Homo sapiens: one gene and its partners. The protein of the gene in region 3 interacts with the protein of the main gene of each other region in a pairwise test. Each region holds a gene or a part of one and is shown on either strand. Other genes may lie near its edges.

Evidence for each region.
Region 1: the proteins of LIMS1 (region 3) and ZNF564 interact in binary tests that used the Homo sapiens proteins (3 or more experiments, as listed by UniProt).
Region 2: the proteins of LIMS1 (region 3) and COL8A1 interact in binary tests that used the Homo sapiens proteins (3 or more experiments, as listed by UniProt).

Annotation. Positions count from the first base shown.
Region 1 is NC_000019.10:12,548,418-12,555,661, reverse strand, and holds the start of ZNF564 (zinc finger protein 564), read left to right. Parts: upstream 1-4,179; 5' UTR 4,180-4,329; coding exon 4,330-4,332; intron 4,333-7,244.
Region 2 is NC_000003.12:99,795,544-99,799,785, forward strand, and holds the end of COL8A1 (collagen alpha-1(VIII) chain precursor), read left to right. Parts: coding exon 1-593; 3' UTR 594-3,674; downstream 3,675-4,242. UniProt on the Homo sapiens protein: Macromolecular component of the subendothelium. Major component of the Descemet's membrane (basement membrane) of corneal endothelial cells. Also a component of the endothelia of blood vessels.
Region 3 is NC_000002.12:108,529,715-108,537,569, reverse strand, and holds the start of LIMS1 (LIM and senescent cell antigen-like-containing domain protein 1), read right to left. Parts: upstream 3,101-7,855; 5' UTR 3,008-3,100; coding exon 2,976-3,007; intron 1-2,975. UniProt on the Homo sapiens protein: Within the IPP (ILK-PINCH-PARVIN) complex, binds to F-actin, promoting F-actin bundling, a process required to generate force for actin cytoskeleton reorganization and subsequent dynamic cell adhesion events such as cell spreading and migration.

The DNA of each region.
Region 1 (7,244 bases), on a different chromosome or scaffold from region 3:
CAGGGCCCTCTGCACCCTGACGCCCCATCGCGACCGCCCCGCTTCCCGCCCGCCGCTCCCGCAGCCACCTGGAGGCGCTGCGTCTCGGCTGGGGCTTCGTCTGTGCCCGGCACAGCGAGGGCCCCGGTGTCTGCGGGGCAGGGGCCGCGGCCTGTCCCGGGACATCCCCGCCCTCCAGCTCACCTGCCTGCTTGGGACTCGGCAAGCCGGCCGCACTCTGCGTCTCACCGCGCTCTCTGTACCATTTTACATTTCCACCACCAAAGTAGGAGTAGGAGTAGGAGTAGAATCCAGTTTCTCTTATGTCCTCCCCAGCACTGGTATAATCCTTCCTTCCTTCCTTCCTTCCTTTCTTTCTTTCTTCCTTCCTTCTTCTTTCTCTTTCTCTCTCTTTCCTTCCCTCCCTTCTTTCTTTCTCTCTCTCTTTTTTTTTTTTTTTTTGAGATGGAGTCTCACTCTGTCACCCAGGCTGGAGTGCAGTGGCACGATCTTGACTCACTGCAACCTCCACCTCCCAGGTTCAAGTGATTCTCGTGCCTCAGCCTCCCGAGTAGCTGGGAGTACAGGCGCCCGCCACCACGCCCAGCTAATTTTTTGTATTTTTAGTAGAGACGGGATTTCGCCATGTTGGCCAGGCTGGTCTCGAACTCCCGAGCTCAGGCAATCCACCCACCCCGGCCTCCCAAAGTGCTGGGATTACAGGCGTGAGCCACCGCACTGCACCCGGCCCTCCCTCTTTCTCTCTTTCTTTTCTCTCCTCTCCTCTCTCTTTCTTTCTTTTTCTTTCTCTCTCTCTCCCCCTCCCTCCCTCCCTCTCTTTCTTTCTTTCTTTCGACAGGGTCTTGCTCTGTCACCCAGGCTGAAGTGCAGTGGCAAGATCTCGGCTCACTGCAACCTCTGCCTGGTGGGTTCAATGATTCTCCTGCCTCAGCCTCCTGAGTAGCTGGGATTACAGGCATGTACCACCACACCATGTGCTGCCACGCCATGTGACGCCACACCTAAAACAGTTTTAAAGAAAGGAGACAAAAAATTATTAGGCTGGGCACAGTGGCTCTTGCCTGTAATCCCATCACTTTGGGAGGCGGAGGCGGGTGGATCTCTTGATGTCAGGAGCTCAGGACCAGTCTGGCCAATATGGTGAAACCCCATCTCTACTAAAAATACAAAAATTAGCCAGGCTTAGTGGCACACACTTGTAATCCCAGCTACTCAGGAGGCTGGGGCAGGAGAATCGCTTGAACCCTAGGAGTCGGAAGTTGCAGTGAGCAACTTGAGATCTCGCCACTGCACTCCAGCCTGGCGACAGAGCAAGACTCCGTCTCAAAATAATAATAATAATACATAAAAAGAAAAATATTTTTTTCTGAGACGGAGTCTCACTCTGTCGGCCAGGCTGCAGTGCAGTAGTGATCTCGGCTCACTGCAACCTCTGCCTCCTGGGTTCAAGTGATTCTCCTGGCTCAGCCTCCCAAGTAGCTGGGACTACAAGTAGCTGGGACTACAGGCACGCGCCACCACGCCCAGCTAATTTTTGTATTTTTAGTAGAGACGGGGGTTTCACCATGTTGGCCAGGAGGGTCTCGATCTCTTGACCTCATGATCCGCCCACCTCAGCCTCCTGAAGTGCTGGGATTATAGGCATGAGCCACCGCGTCCGGCCTTTTTATTTATTTTTCATAGAGATGGGGTCTCGACATCTTTCCCAGGCTGGTCTTGAATTCCTGGGCTCGAGCAATCCTCCCTCCGCAGCCTCCCAAAGTGCTGGGATTACAGGCGTGAACCACTGCATCCAACCCCTGTCCAGATAATTTTTGGCTTCTGTGTAGCATTCCTTTCCCCAGCGTACAGGACAGGACACTCTTTGGAGTGAGAGTCTTATGACCCACGATCACATTAGAGTTCTGCAGTGGACAGGTGAATGGGGGGCAGGAGAAGGTCAGAGAGAGAGAGTTTCTGTTTACTGTAACAAGGACTATGGGAGTTATGAGTCAGGAAGCATGGATGGAAACCAATGTATAAATCATAATAGCATAGCTGATATCTTTGTTTTCTCAAAGGAATCATTACTTGCCAGTTTTAAAATCCATATAAAGTATTTTAGAATTTTTTGTCTTCCAGCTTATACATAACCACAGAAGGAAAGCAGGAACTCTGCTAGTTTCTTAAAAACAAACAAACAGCAAAGGGGATTGAAGGTCTTTTTTCTTACCTAAGTGGATCAGTGTTGGTGAGAAGCAAGTGAATAAACTGCAGTGGGCAGGAGAGCCTGAGACCAGTCTGGAGCCTGCAAAGAGAGGGAAAGGGTGCTTCTTGGGCAGCCTGCCCGCCCTTGCAGGTGGCCTCCAGCTGCTCAGGAGTGCAGATTCTTTTTTTAATTTTAATTTTATTTTTTACTTTTATTATTTTTTTGAGGCAGAGTCTCACTGTTTTGGCACCCAGGCTGGAGTGCAGTGGCGCAGTCTGGGCTTACTGCAACCTCTGCCTCCCGGGTTCAAGCGGTTCTCCTGCCTCAGCCTCCCGAGTGGCTGGGATTACAGGCACGCGCCACCACGCCCGGCTAATTTTTGTATTTTTACTATAGACGAGGTTTCACCATTTGGCCAGGCTGGTCTCGAACTCCTGACCTCAGGTGATCCGCCCGCCTGGGCCTCTCAAAGTGCTGGCGTGAGCCACCGCGCCTGGCCAGGAATGTGGATTCTGAGAAGCTGCAGAGCTGTGAAAAGCAGGAGACCCATGTGCAGATGTGGTTGGGTTGGGGGTGGAGGGTTCTGTCTTTTCTGAGGTTGTACCTTTGGCGCCTGGGGCCATTTCCTGGACAGTGTTTTGGTTTTAGCATTCATGGGGTCGCTGAGTCAGGCTGTAATTTGTATACATGAAGAAAATCTGTGAGGGTCAGACTCAGTGAAAAACTTGTTTGCATTGTCCCCTGGAGAAAAGGTTTGGGAACATGACAATTTATTTAGGTCACGACTTTACATTGACTCCGGGTGAGAGTTTCCTGCTGGTACAAATGAAGGTTTTGAAGGAAAGAGTGTTTCCACACTGTGAGGAGAGGACTGGAGGGCACCTTGAGCTCCCAAAGTTGAATTCTTAAGTGTCCCTGTCTCATCACCAGGTTCTGATCCACACTGGGGTTCCATTTCAGCAGTTAGAGTCTGGGTCCCAAGCTTGGGATTATTTTATTTTATATTTCATTTCTTCATTTCATTATTTCATTTCATTTCATATTTCATTTTTTAGTCTCGCTCTGTCGCCCAGGCTGGAGTGCAATGGCGCTATCTCGGCTCACTGCAACTTCCCCCTCCCAGGTTCAAGCGATTCTCGTACCTCAGCTTCCCGAGTTGCTGGGATTACAGGCACCTGCCACCACGCCTGGCTAATTTTTGTATTTTTAGTAGAGATGGGGTTTCACCATGTTGGTTAGGCTGGTCTTGAACTCCTGACCTTAAGCAATTTTCTCACCTTGGCCTTCCAAAGTTCTGGGATTACAGGCGTGAGCCACCGCGCCCGGCGCTTGGGAATATTTTTAACGTTATGATTGTGGGTTTTCCTTGTGAACTGCGGGTGAAGCAGGCTGCTTGTCTGAGCTAGTTCAAATGTTTGCTTACTTCTCTTGGTTTCTTTATAGATGATCGCTGTCATAAAAACTCCAGTTTTTCCTATACATTTAATACTTTTATTTCTTTGTCCGTTTTAATTTTCTTGCCTGAAAGAAGCAAGCCCTCCTCCCTCCTGTTACACTGTGGTCTGGCCTGGCCTGGGCGCGCCTCCTACTCCGAGGCCAGGGGATGGCTCCACTGGACGCCGAGTCTGTCATTCCCTGTGCACACTTGTGACTCTGTGTCCGGGAGGAAAAGGCAGGAAGGGCACCCTGAGTGCAGAAACACGCCAGTGTCACCTCTGCAGAGCCTGAAACACTTTCTGCTTAAATGCAAATATCCTCCCCGGCACAGAAGGTTACAGAAGGAGGAAGCCCGGCCCGCGAAGGGCAGTGGCCAAGACCCTGTCAATCTGTCTTTACTCAGCCACATACCGCATTGCTTCTCCTGTCACTCAGTACCAAGGGGGCAGGACTTGAATCATCACCCAATCAGGGGCACTGGGGCGGGAACCTGCAAACCATCCAATCAGGAACTCTGCAAGGGGGACAGGGGCAATGTTCAACAACTCCGCGGGGTCTTCCTGTTTCGTGTCCGCTGCGTTTGGGTTCCGGTCTCCGCTTCTCCAGTGGCCCCGGTGGCTCCACCGCAGCGTCTGGCGCGCTGGGACCTGCACAGGCCGGAGAGAGCCGTAGGCAGGACCCCGGGACACCCTGGAAGCCAGGAAATGGTGCGTGTGCGGGGCCGGGCGCCTGGAGACTGGGGGAGGGGCTTGTGGGAACCGGCCGGAACCGGCTGTGGAAGCACCCTGGCCTCCCTGCAGCGACTCCAGGGTCTGGGACCCGAGTTCCCTGGCGCAGCTCGGCCCTCTGTCCCCTCGGCCGCAGGGTGGGTTGGGCCGTAGCCAGTACCCCAGGCGTCCTGTCCCGTCCCTGCGCGGCGACTGCGGCCTCGGCCTCGGAGCCCTGTCTGGGCAGCTCCGCGCCCGCAGCCCCGCCTCTCTCCAGATTGTTTGTACTGGGACACGGGAGGGTCATAAGGCGGAATCCCGTCTCGGGTGTGCGGTTCGTGCATGGGAAGAGCTGTGGGCTGTGGCCTTCCCAGTACATCGTCTTTTTTTCCGGGGGACTGGTCTTCCTCCGAGTCTTCCAAACGTACTGGAAAAAGAATCTCAAACCTACGACTCCCGTTTTTTTTAGCCTAGCTTTTTCTGGGGCTGGAAATAAATGCCTAAATTTCCGGTTCCTTCCCCGCATTCCCAAAGGTGACCTCCCCTCGCCAAATCAACATTATCAGCTGTTTTTTGTTTGACATTTAAGACACAGTATTTTAGTTGTTTATAGTTTCTTTCACCATACTCTTTTGAAAGGATTTGTTTTCTGTTTGTTGTTTTTTTTTTCTTTTCAGACAGAGTTTCGCTCTGTCGCCCAGGCTGGAGTGCAGTGGGAAGATCTCAGCTCACTGCAACCTTCGCCTTCCGGGTTCAAGCAATTCTCCTGCCTCAGCCTCCTGAGTAACTGGGATTACAGGCATGCGCCGCCACGACCGGCTACTTTTTGTATTTTTGGTAGAAACTGGGTTTCTCCATGTTGGCCAGGTTGGTCTCAAACTCCAGACCTCAGGTGATCCGCTCACCTCCGCCTCCCAAAATGCTGGTATTACAGACGTGAGCCACCGCGCCCGGCCTCTTGTTTGTGTACTTGTAACCTGAGAGGGAAACGGAGAATAAGAACCTGACACTCTACGGTAAAATTTTTTTTTTTTTTTGAGACAGAGTTTCGCTCTTATTGCCCAGGCTGGAGTGCAATGGCGCGATCTCAGCTCACTGCAACCTCCACCTCCTGGGTTCAAGCGATTCTCCTGCCTCAGCCTCCCGTGTAACTGGGATTACAGGCATGCGCCACCATGCCCGGCTAATTTTGTATTTTTAGTAGAGACAGGGTTTCTCCATGTTGGCCAGGCTGGTCTCGAACTCCCGACCTCAGGTGATCCGCCTGCCTCGGCCTCCCAAAGTGCTGGGATTACAGGCGTGAGCCACCGCGCCCGGCCGTGGTAAAAAAATTTTTGTGCTTCCCCTCCTTTTATCTTTCCTAAGCCCCGACGCCTAATCAGAATGTCTTTGGGTGGAGTTTCCCCTTTGGAAACTTTACAAGGTGATGTGGCCCTCTATCTTTTCCTGGTCCTGATTTTCAGAACTGCCTGGGCCTGACCCAGGATACCCACAGCTGCCACTTCTCTTGGAGGATCTAGTGATTATCAACCCCTGGGTCACTCCTCCCAGAGGACAGCTTAAGGTGTAGGGGTGGGGCCTCTCACGGGAGCAGCTGTATGCCCTGAGGTGGGAGGAGTCTCCCGGTATCCCCTTCCTCTGAAAAGTTTACCCTTTGGGACGCTCAGCTTTTCTTCCTCAACCCCAGTTTCCGTTCCTTAGGGACACATTGATGGTTACCCAATCTTAGGCTGTTACTGAGAGGAAAAGACACAAATGATTCCTGACCTCTGGATTGTTTTTAGTCTAGTGAAGGGAGGAAAACTATCTCAAAGGAGAAGGAAAACCTGCCCCATTGAAATGGTGCGAGAACCTGAAAGTTAAAATGCGCTTGGGGCAGAGTGAGCAGGGCACAATTCACTGTCTTCAGGGAGGTTGGTCACTGAGCACTCAGTGAGCCAGGGTGGGGCTGGGAGATGTCCTAGGGGATAGGGTGACCTCACCTGACATTGGAATCAGATAAATGTCTGTATTCCAGGTCAGCATTGCCTCTCCCTGGGTTTGTAAACCCTTGAAAAGGTTTATTTGCTTATTTGATCCTGTTTTTCATTAAATGTAGAATGTATTTTATCAGTAGTGCTTGAAAGACAAGATAAAGTGTTTGCAAAGGGAGGGTCACAAAGGGGAGAAAGAGGCAGAAAGTAGATTTGAGGGAAAACAATTATCTAGTCTTACATTCAATTTGTTAAAAAATCTTATTTGTGTAGTTTCCTCTCCGCAACATGTATGGTAGGTTTCTCAGGTCTATTTTCTTCTTTTGGGTGATTTCAGATCAATCCCAGAACTTAGCCTTGAGAATGCTACTGCGGATAAGAATCTCAGATAAGTAGGGAAATTCAGTCTTCCATTATGGCTACAGAGAAACGAATACATTTCCACATTAATTGGTGAAATACAGAGATTCTCTAAAATATCTTCTCCTTTGCAGGGTAGAGATTTTGTCGTAATGGATAACTGTTCTGTATCCTTTCATCTGGACTTTGGTGATTAATGCTAAATCCTATCAGATGGGACTTTGAAATATTAAATATTAGTGAATTAAATATTAGTAAAGAAGTTGTCATGGAAGTAACAATAATGTGAGGTCTCTATTGTCTGAAAGGGATAGATAAATGTGCTTTTCATGTTTAAGCTATAGAATACAAATGTCTTGCCAGCCGCGATGGCTGACGCCTGTTATCCCAGCACCAAGGCAGGTGGATCACGAGGTCAGGAGATCGCGACCATCCTGGCTAACATGGTGAAACCCCGTCTCTACTAAAAAATACAAAAAATTGGCCGGGCACGGTGGCTCACGCCTTTAATCCCAGCACTTTGGGAGGCCAAGGTGTGCGGATCACAAGGTCAGGAGATGGAAACCATCCTGGCTAACA
Region 2 (4,242 bases), on a different chromosome or scaffold from region 3:
GTGCCCTTGGTCCTCAAGGCCAGCCTGGCCTTCCAGGACCCCCAGGCCCTCCAGGACCTCCAGGACCCCCAGCTGTGATGCCCCCTACACCACCACCCCAGGGAGAGTATCTGCCAGATATGGGGCTGGGAATTGATGGCGTGAAACCCCCCCATGCCTACGGGGCTAAGAAAGGCAAGAATGGAGGGCCAGCCTATGAGATGCCTGCATTTACCGCCGAGCTAACCGCACCTTTCCCACCGGTGGGGGCCCCAGTGAAGTTTAACAAACTGCTGTATAACGGCAGACAGAACTACAACCCGCAGACAGGCATCTTCACCTGTGAGGTCCCTGGTGTCTACTACTTTGCATACCACGTTCACTGCAAGGGGGGCAACGTGTGGGTTGCTCTATTCAAGAACAACGAGCCCGTGATGTACACGTACGACGAGTACAAAAAGGGCTTCCTGGACCAGGCATCTGGGAGTGCAGTGCTGCTGCTCAGGCCCGGAGACCGGGTGTTCCTCCAGATGCCCTCAGAACAGGCTGCAGGACTGTATGCCGGGCAGTATGTCCACTCCTCCTTTTCAGGATATTTATTGTATCCCATGTAAAAACAAAAAAACAAAAAACAAAGAAAAGAAAGAGATTTTATAGAAGAAAATGACACACCAAAAAATCCAAATGAAAAACATAATTGCTTCAAAACACTTACACAGTTGGAAAGTTATATGTAAGTGAAAATTTGGACCATTGTGTACAAATAAAAACTAAGATGCATGTTTAATACTCCACACAGCAGCCTGTAATTGCGAATGATGGGATAGAGTTATGTATCAAGTACTGACACTTGGTTGTACCCACTGGAATCATATTAGCTGTTTTATGTTATATGCTTCCACAGTAACCTGCTTATTCAGATCAGTCAAAATATATCAGTATGAAAGATCATAGCTAATGAAAGGCACTCACTCATATTGTTTACTTTAAAATATTTATAAATATGCCTTAAAGAAATACAAATGATAACAATTACATACCGTATTTACTTGCTTAATTTCCTCTGTATTTGTGTAGATACTTTGACATGGAATATATGGTGGGGAGACCCGTAGTGTTACCGCCCCAGTGGGAGGGGGCCCTGGGGACCCTGGTAATGCTTTAGTCAAAGGGATATCTCTCTTGTATCAGAGGCTGTGTCTTTTAGTAACAGGAGTCCTCGTCAGAATTGCGTGTCTGTTGTCTCTAAAAGAATGGGTGAACCAATCGGCCTTTGTGAATTTATTCAGTGCCTTCTCTGTACCAAGCACTGGGTAAGGCACTTTTGTGGAGCATTAGACAGTAACCCTCAAGGAGCTAGAGAACCGGATGGGAGACATGAGCAGTAATTAACTCACTTGTTCCCCAGAGTTTCTATTTGTTTTGATTTTCTTTTTCTGTGACTTATTTTCCTATTTTCTTTCCTCCATGTAATTTTCACTATGGCCCAACTAATATAAACACCTGGAAATTACAAGGAAAAAAAATTCTTCCTCTAATAACTTTCCAAATTTGTGGAATATTTATTTGTAATAGCAGTTATCAGTTATGCTTATATAGCATTAAAAATTCTCCTCCTTTGACTACACACACAACCACAGTGTGGTTCTAATCATGGAGATATCAGTAATTTTTAGTAACTGAATTTTGAGGACATTTCTCTGTTTAGCATGTATGCAAACTGATATGTAATCTGAGGTTCCAAAGTCAATTTTTTTCTTTTTTTTTTGAGATGGAGTCTTACTCTGTCACCCAGGCTGGAGTGCAGTAGCACGATCTTGGCTTACTGCAACCTCTACCTCCTAGGTTCAAGCAATTGTCCTGTCTCAGCCTCCCGAGTACTGGGACTACTGTCTTGCGCCACCATGCCTGGCTAATTTTTGTATATTTAGTAAAGATGGGTTTTCGCCATGTTGGCCAGGCTGGTCTCAAACTCCTGGCCTCAAGTGATGCACCTGCCTCAGCCTTCCAAAGTGCTGGGATTACAGGCATGAGCCACCGTGCCCGGCCAAAGTCAGCTTTCAAAATCCAAGCCATAATTGGTGAGGGGGGAGTTTCAGAATTACATAGAAAAATTAATATTTGAAAAAATAATTCTGAAATTTCGAATTTAAAAACAGATGTGCTGCTTCTGGGTGTAGGTAGTAAAAGTATAGGAAAAGAACTGTTTCCTTAGAAGCGGACTGTGGAAGGGCTATGTAGAATGTCAAAGGGCAACAAGAGCCTGTGTTTTTAATGTCATCCTGTACTCGGCACAAATCAAAGGCCAATACAAGTCTGAAAAGCAGAAATAAATATTTTTCCAGGTTTTTGCTTGGGCACATACTAACTGCTTTGGGCATTCTAATCTGGTCTCCAAACACCAAAGACCCATTTCGAGCCTGCTATTAGCCTGCTGCTGACTCTATCACTTGGAGCAATAATGTGGGGTTATGGTGGTGGAATCTTGTATATTTTTGTCAAAAATAAAACCATGAGTTAAGGGGATAGATATAGATGGAAAAATACACAAATAAATACGGTATGAAAACACATGGAAATGTGTCTTTGTCAAATCTGAATCATTATTACCATCACAAAAATTCTTCTCTTGGCCAATATCTCATTTCCCTATATAGTATACAAGCACCATTTCTTCTCAATTTTTAAGAAGAGAAATTAGTCCATTACCACAGGGGTTCTTGTCACTACTAATTATACAACAATCTTTTCCCAACAAAAAGATGTCCTCCACAACCTTTGTTTTCAAAGCAGACAGCATCTATGTGGCCAAATATACTTTGGGTTGTTCTTGAGGATACTGGTTTTGGGCTGATGACTATGGTGGGCAGCATGGATCCATTGGGCTCCTTCTGCTAAACAGCCACATTGAAATGGTTTAAAAGCAAGTCAGATCAGGTGATTTGTAAAATTGTATTTATCTGTACATGTATGGGCTTTTAATTCCCACCAAGAAAGAGAGAAATTATCTTTTTAGTTAAAACCAAATTTCACTTTTCAAAATATCTTCCAACTTATTTATTGGTTGTCACTCAATTGCCTATATATATATATATATGTGTGTGTGTGTGTGTGTGCGCGTGAGCGCACGTGTGTGTATGCGTGCGCATGTGTGTGTATGTGTATTATCAGACATAGGTTTCTAACTTTTAGATAGAAGAGGAGCAACATCTATGCCAAATACTGTGCATTCTACAATGGTGCTAATCTCAGACCTAAATGATACTCCATTTAATTTAAAAAAGAGTTTTAAATAATTATCTATGTGCCTGTATTTCCCTTTTGAGTGCTGCACAACATGTTAACATATTAGTGTAAAAGCAGATGAAACAACCACGTGTTCTAAAGTCTAGGGATTGTGCTATAATCCCTATTTAGTTCAAAATTAACCAGAATTCTTCCATGTGAAATGGACCAAACTCATATTATTGTTATGTAAATACAGAGTTTTAATGCAGTATGACATCCCACAGGGGAAAAGAATGTCTGTAGTGGGTGACTGTTATCAAATATTTTATAGAATACAATGAACGGTGAACAGACTGGTAACTTGTTTGAGTTCCCATGACAGATTTGAGACTTGTCAATAGCAAATCATTTTTGTATTTAAATTTTTGTACTGATTTGAAAAACATCATTAAATATCTTTAAAAGTATGTTTCTCATCTTGTTCGTATCATTCAGTTGACACTGAACCTCACAAGTATTTTTAAATTCGTACTCTCATGAATTAGCTGCTGAAATAGAGACCTAAAATAAGCATAGCTTATACAGAACAATTTATTCCTCTTTGACTTAAGAGCTCCTAGGATAAGCAGTCTAGGACTCACATGGTAATTCCAATCACAGCCCCAGGCTCCTTCCATCTTATTGCTCTTCTACATCAAGGGTGTTGCCCTCATCTCCATGGTCCAGGATACTAACCATCAGTCACATTCTATCCCCGGGGAGGATGAACAAAGCAGGAAGGACAGGACATGCTTTTTGTCTTAAAGGACTCAACCTAGCAGCTGCTTGGATCACTGTCTCCCACATCCCGTGGCTCCAAATTTAGTCACGTGACCACAAGAAGCTGTAAGGAAGTGTGGGAAATTGAATAGTCTATGTAACCATATGCCCAGCTAAAAATCAGGGGTTCTAGTAGTATGGGAGAAGAGAGAATCAATATTAGGGAATAATTAGCTGCTGCATCTTCCACTTCCATCAAAAAAGAAAAAATGGCCA
Region 3 (7,855 bases):
CACTGAAAAGTGTGAATACACTTAGGCCCATGGCATTGTCCCTCTTCATAATGGCACTGGCCATTTTCTTATCAGGGAAAATCCTGAAAGGCAGAAAGTTGCTTCTTCCATGGTGGTCCAAGTCTTAGTTATTACATCCTACTAAAACTAGCCAAAACTACAAGGCACACACTACCACAAGCATTCAAGAGCAATTTTAAGAGAAACCTTGTATTTGTTCCTTTTTAAATATCCCCAATACCTGCATATCCTTCATCATTTAGGATTATGTCTTTAACAGTGGTTCTTAAAGTATGGCCTTGAACTCCTGAGGGTCTCCAAGACCTTTCTAAGGGATCCGAGAGATCAAAACTATTTTCATCATACTAAGATATTCCTAAGAAGTCACTGTAGCATTGTGGACTGTGTTGACACACAGATAGTGCAAAAACAACAGTCGGTACAACTGCTGGCCGCTTAGCACTAAAGAGGGCCGTGGTACTGTCCCTGAATTCTTTACCTTTATGTACTCACAGGAAAATAATGTCAATTTCACTTTTTAAGTGAAATGGTACAGTCATGCTGGAAAAAAACTGTCAGTTTCTCAAAAAACTAAACATACGATTTCTGTACAACCTGCCAATTGCACACTCTTGGACATTTATCCCAGAAAAGGAAAAGTTACATTCACATAAAACTTAGACAGGCTGAGCACAGTGGCTCTAAAATTCCAGCACTTTGGGAGGCTGAGGTGGGTGGACTGCTGGAACCCAGGAGTTTGGGACCCCCAGACTAGCCTGGACAACATGGCGAAACCCTGTTTCTACCAAAAAAATACAAAAATTATCCAGGCATGGTGGCGTGTGTCTGTAGTCCCAGCTACTTGGGGGACTGAGGTGGAAGGATTGCTTCAGCCTGGGAGGTCTAGGGTGCAGTAAGTCATGATCATGCTACTGCATTCCACTCCAGTCTGGGTGACTAAGCAAGACACTGTCTCAAAAACAACAACAAACACCTGTCTATTTGTTCGTAGTAGCTTTCTTAATAGCCCAAAACTAACAGCCTGAATGTCCTTCAAACATGTGAACAGTTAAACTGCTGTACATCCATACCATGGAGCACTACTGAGCAACAAAAAGGAACAAACTATGACATGCACAACAAATAGCGTATGATTCCACTTACATGAGATATGAGGTACCAGCAGTAGTCAAAGTCATAGACAGAAATTAAAATGATGGCTGCCAGGGACTGGCGGGAGGAGGGGAATGGAGAATTATTGTTTAATAGGTACAGAGTTTCAGTTTTGTAAGATAAAGATTTCTGGACATGTATGATGGTTACGGATGCACAATAATTTGAATGAACTTATTACTCTCCCTCCAAAAAGTAAATTACTAATGGTAAATTCAGGATGGGAAGGGGATAGGATGCGGAGAGACACTGGACCAGAGAGGTTTGAAGGTCTTAAAAGGAAACTATTATCTCCTTTATTACACTACATATCCGTTATTCTTAATATCTCACAAATACTTTAAATTTTATATCAACTTACTAGTCAATACTTTTTTTTAAGGAAAAAAGTCCATGATGAAGGAGTACAAATTATTGTTATCAAATCTTGAGCTTTGACTCTTTTTTGTTACTTGTGACCAAATGGCAGGCGTGCACTTCTGTAATAGAGCGATGAGCTGAATTAACTTGCTTGTGTCATGAAATACCATTTTTACGGGAAAGAACAACTGACAAACTAGGGTTATTTAAACCTGTATTGCCGGACACTTCCTTGAAACTGAACAAAGTGAGTCTGTCACTTTGAGGAAAACAATTGACAATATTTTGCTCCCAATGATAAAAAGCAAGCTTTCAACCGAAAATGAGAATTTTGGAAAACTTGTAAACACCACCTTGTATCTGACGGCTTTTAACATAAAGACTTTCCTAATGAAATCAATAGCGATGGTAACGAATGTTATTCGGCGCTATTAATGAAATGCGTCAGCTTGAGATCTGCCAAACTCAGTGAGCCAATATCTTCCAAACGACAAATATATGGTGTTACAATGGGTAACAGCTGCATTCAAACTGCAAGACAGACCAAGGAATTTTAACGTAACTGTGTGCAAAGGCCACTGACAGGAGCTTTAGCTGCATTCAAACTGCAAGACAGACCAAGGAATTTTAACGAAACTGTGTGAAAAGTCCGCTGACAGTAGCTTCAGATTCCACGTCCAAACCAGCCTTTGAGAAACTTCCACTTACGTAGTTTTGGTGTAGTAATAAAGAATACCCATAATTATCTGAAACAGCTATTAAGACAGTACTCACTTTTCCAACTACACATCTGTGTAAGATCAGATTTTCTTCATATAAAAACATACCGCAACAGACTGAACTGCAAAGGAGATGGGAGAACGTAGTTGTCTCTACTAAGTCAGACAACTCAAGAGATTCGCAAACTGTAAAGGACGCCAGTCGTCCCACGAACTCTTTTGTTTTAGCAAAACCCTATGTTGCATAAAAATGTGGTATGTACGTTAACATACCACGGATTTATTCAATGAGTTAATAGTAACTTCAGTGTCTCGGTTTTCCTTTCTAGTACAGTCTATGGAGATAGCCACCATTCCAGGTCCTCTAGTCCCAAGAGGGGTCCTGAGACCAAGACGTCTGCGACCCGCTGATCCCTACTGCTAGAAGATAAATGATTAGCTCGGCAAATACTGATTTGTCTTATGGAACTCTCGGAGCAGCGGGGCGGCGTCAGCGCCTGTGCCACCGCGGACACCCGGGAGTGAACAGCAGCCGTCTCCTCCGCGGGCCCGGACGCAGCCACGCCGCCACCCGAGCGCTGGGGGTCGGGGCTCCGGCCGACCGGGGGAGGCCGCGGGGAAAGCCCGGCCGCCCGCCCGCGCCAGGCCCGGCCCGGCCCGGCCCGAAGGCCCGCCGGGAGCTGCGGGGCGGACGTGGCGGGGGCCGCGCGGTGCGGCCCGTACCTGTGGGTCATCCCGGCCGCCACGCCCAGCATCTCTCCGCTTTCGGCCGCCGCCGTCTCTCAGCCCCTCGTCTCCCGGCGCCGCTCCAGCCGCGTCCTAGTCCCTCGCCGCCGCGGCCGGCTACTGGCGGGCCCGGAGCAGGAAGGGGAGGAAGGCCAGGGGCCGGCCGCGCGGGGGCGCGGGAGGGGGGGGAAGGCGAGGCGGGCCGCGCGGGAAGGCGGGGGAGGGGCGGGAGCGGCTGGGCAAGGAGGGGCGGGGACTGGCGGGGCGGGCGCCGAAGGGCGCGGACTGGAGAGGTAGGCGCGGGGGGGCGGGGCGTTGCGGGGCGGGGCGCGCATCAGACCCCGCCCCAACCCGTGGCTCGGGCCCGCCCCCATTTCAGCACCCCAGGCTAGTCTGGGAGGCTGGCGCAAACGCAGCGGGTGGCTGGGGTAGGGGCTCATTGGGAGCCCACGGAGCGCGGCGGCGGCTCGGGGGCCGAGTTCCCTACAACAAGGATGGCGGTGACGGGCGCAGGGAGCGGGGCCCGGCTCTCCTTGCCTCGAGGCTCCTCTGATTCCACTCGCGTGGCTGCGCGGCCCTGGCAGCGGCCTTCGTCCCGGGGGTGGGAGCTACACAGGGTTCCGCCCCGTCCTGGCGAGGACGCCTGAGGGGGCTCTGTGGTAAGGCTCTGTCGGGCAGGCCGGGCTTCCGGGAGGACCTGGTCTGGATCGGTCACCGCTGGGTGCCTGAGCTCCGCATGGAGCCTGCAGCCTTTGTTTAACTTGTGAGTTAAGAAAAGTTAACCTTTCTTGGAGAGTTTCCAGTCTTGCCTCTGCATCCTGTTCTTCCTTGCTAGCTCTCATTTTCTTCACCCATTCCGTCTATCAAAACCTGAAATTTTGGGGCCGGCGCAGTGGCTCACGCCTGTAATCCCAGCACTTTGGGAGGCTGAGGCAGGCGGATCACCTGAGGTCAGGAGTTCGAGACCAGCCTGACCAACATGGAGAAACCCCGTCTCTACTAAAAATACAAAATTAGCCGGGCGTGGTGGTGGCACATGCCTGTAATCCCAGCTACTCGAGAGGCTGAGGCAGGAGAATCGCTTGAACTTGGGAGGCGGAGCTTGTGGTGAGCTGGGAGATCGCGCCACTGCACTCCAGCCTAGGTAACAGGCTCCGTCCCAAAAAAAAAAAAAAAAAAAAGTGAAATCTCCAAAGGATTTAATAGATTTAATAGATAAGACAAGTTATTCATCCTGGGCATAAATGATCTCTCTCAGGATACCTGATTCTGTAACTATAGCTACTCTCTAGTAATAGAATGAAAACTTTGGTCTCCTGCCAGTCGAGGCATGTCGGAGGAAAACACTGGATCTATTTGATGTCCTCACATGAAAGTAAATTCCAAACAAAGCAAATAGTTAAATGTTCAAAAAACAAAAAAAAAAAAAAAAAAAAAGAGAGAGGTTATGAAAATACCAGAAGAAAACAAGGGAAAAAAACAAAAGTAAGGTTGGAGTGGTGAGAGACTTTTCAAAGAGCATATAAACCATAAAATTAAAAATTGATAAATGTAGGCCGGGCACGGTGACTCACGCGTGTAATCCCAGCACTTGGAGAGGCTGAGGTGAGTGGATCACCTGAGGTCAGGAGTTTGAGACCAGCCTGACCAACATGGTGAAACCCCGTCTCTAATAAAAATACAAAAATTTCACCGGTTGTGGTGGCGGGGTTCCTGTAATCCCAGCTACTTGGGAGGCTGAGGCAGGAGAATTACTTGAACCTGGGAGACAGAGGTTGCAGTGAGCCGAGATCGCGCCATTGCAGTCCAGCCTGGGCGACAGAGCAAGACTCTGTCTCTAAATAAATAAATAAAAATTGATAAATGTAACTACATAGAAATCTAAATTTTCTGCATAGCAAATAAATATAACAAACCCCAACCAAGAAAAATATTTGTAAAATGTATGACAAAAAGTTCTAAATTATTAAAAAAGTTCTAATTATTAAAAAAATCAGTACAAAAATGTTCAACTCAGAGAAAAACAGGTTTCTACAGAAAAATACAAATGATTTCTTAAAGTATCATAAAACAAAAATAAAATACAATTTTTCACAAATGCAAAGATGAAAAGTTTGACTATATATTGTTTTGATGAGGATATAGGGAAACCCTTTTTTCCTCCCCTAGAGGAGGCCTCTCTATGTTACCCACACTGGTCTTGAACTCTTGGACTTCAACTATCCTTTTGAATAGCAGGGTTTACGAGTGCACGTCAGCATGCCTGGCTAATTTATTGTTGATAGGAGTATAAATCCATACACGCTTTGTAAAGAACAAGTGGGCAATAGCTATCAATGTAAAATTCAGCTCTTCTTTGACCCAAGATATTCATATTTTGGAATTTATCTTACAAATGTATTCTTATATGTACACCAAAAGAATGTACAAATTTGGGCATGGTGGCTCACACCTGTAATCCCAGCACTTTTGGAGGTCGAAGCAGGAGGATCCCTTGAGGTTAGGAGTCCAAGACCAGCCTGGGAAGAAAAGGGAGACCCCCCTGCCTTGTCTCTACAAAAAAAAAAAATTAAAAATTAGCTGGGCATGGTGGCGTGCACCTGTAGTTCCAGCCAGCTATAATTGCACCACTGCACTGCAGCCTGGGTGACAGAGTGAGACCCCGATTCAAAAAAAAAAAAAAAAGAAAAAAGAAAGAACAAATTTTAAAGGTCCCTAGGCAACTATCTGTACACTAAATGACATCACTGAAATTTACTTTAAAATGTAGGGGTGGGGAATGTGGGTTGATAACTTGAAACTACCTCATAAATACATTACATTCTTTATATTAGCTTGTCTACTTTAGTGTATATGTGAACATTTCTGTAATAAAAAAGTTTTTTAAAATTGAAAATGGCCGCGCGGTGGCTCAGGCCTGTAATTCCAGCACTCTGGGAGGCCAAGGCAGACAGATCATGAGGTCAGGAGATTGAGACCGTCCTGGCTAACACGGTGAAACCCCGTCTCTACTAAAAAAAAAAAAAAAAAAATGCTGGGCATGATGGTGTGCGCCTGTAGTCCCAGCTACTTGGGAGGCTGAGGCAGGAGAATGGCGTGAATCCAGGAGGCGGAACTTGCAATGAGCCTGTAGCAGGATGAGCCGCAGACAAAACTCCTCAGACTCCGAGTTGAAGGAAGGGGTTTATCTGGCCGGGGGCATCAGCAAGTCTCCTGTCTCAAGGGCCAAGCACCCCGAGTGAGCAATTCCTGTCCTTTTTAAGGGCTCACAACTCTAAGGGGGTGTACGTGAGAGGGTCGTGATCGATTGAGCAAGCAGGGGGTACGTGAGTGGAGGCTGCATGCACCAGTAATTAGACCGGAACAAAACAGGATAGGGATTTTCACAGTGCTTTTCTATACAGTGTCTGTAATCTATAGATAACATAACTGATTAGGTCAGAGGTCGATCTTTAACTACCAGGCCTAGGGTGTGGGGCCGGGCTGTCTGCTTGTGGATTTCATTTCTGCCTTTTAGTTTTTACTTTTTCTTTCTTTAGAGGCAGAAATTGGGCATAAGACAATATGAGGGGTGGTCTCCTGCCTTATTCCTCCCCTTTGAGACTCTCACTCAATAGTAGGAGTTTTCACTTTCATTTTCTTATCTATGTCTTCCTGCAAGACAGATCGATAGTGATTCATTCATATAGTACACTTCTGCTGAAGCATTTTGGTGAACTAAGGTAGCGATGAAACTTTTTATCATTTGAAGAAGTACAGGTAGCAAACAAGGGAGCAGTAAGCAGGTTCCTATTACTATTATAACTTTTATTATAAGAGTTTTAAATCTTCGTAGTGCTGGGAACCATTTTCTAAACATGGCCTCAGGATCAAATCCATGCCACACTTGTACGGGCACATGTGTCAATTTTGTTATATCTGTAACTATGTCTTCAACTACTTGCCCTTGATTATCTATGTATAGGCAGTAATTAGTATGGTTAAATTTCCTACAGACCTCACCTTCAGCTGCTAGCAAGTAGTCGAGAGCTAATCTATTTCGATAGATAGCATTTCTCATCTGAGTTTATTGCCGGGCCAGAAGAGTCAAGGCTCTGCCAGTTTTATTAGTGGTTATTTTTAAGACAGCTTGTAACCGTATGATTCAGTTGATCATGCAAATGGGGGTCTGGTATCCTCACGAGCCGTCTTGTGCCTAAGTAGCAGGCCTATAATATTGCATGATTCTCTTAGGGGGCCATTTATCATGTTTTCAATTTCTTATAGCTATGCTTCTCTTTTCGTGGGAAGCATAGACAGGGAAGCCTAGGATTTCGCCTGTTTTTATGGGCAGTAGGAAGAAAGATGGTTTAATAGTGCCAGTAACACAACTACCTGCCTGCTGGTCGGGTAATTTGGCATAAGCTCTATGCCTACATATCCAGTACAATCTAGTGGGGGCTGTCCAGTCCCGGTGGGACTCCGGGTGGGTCCACACAGTTTGCAACTTTGGGAATTTACTAAATGGATTTCTCTCTGTGTGACTTGAACTCCACCAAGTGACTGTTTTTGTGGTGCCATTATACACTTTCTGTCTCAGACAACTAAGTCATCCTACGGGGTGAGTGAATTCTCTTCCTTCTCTAGCTATGCAATATTGTCCAATAATTGAGGCTTTTAGGACCTAGAAATTATCAGGGTGATTCTTTTGAGCTGGGAATTCATCAGGAACTTGGTCTGTAGGTACTAATTCTTGGGCTTCCTGTGGCCATTGATCTCCTATTACAGTTTCTCCACGTACATAACGTGAAGTGACATTGAGAGACTGGGTTACATGCTCGGCTAATTGCAAAAACAAATTTCTTGTTTTTCCTGGAATTTCTGGTACTGGCACATTT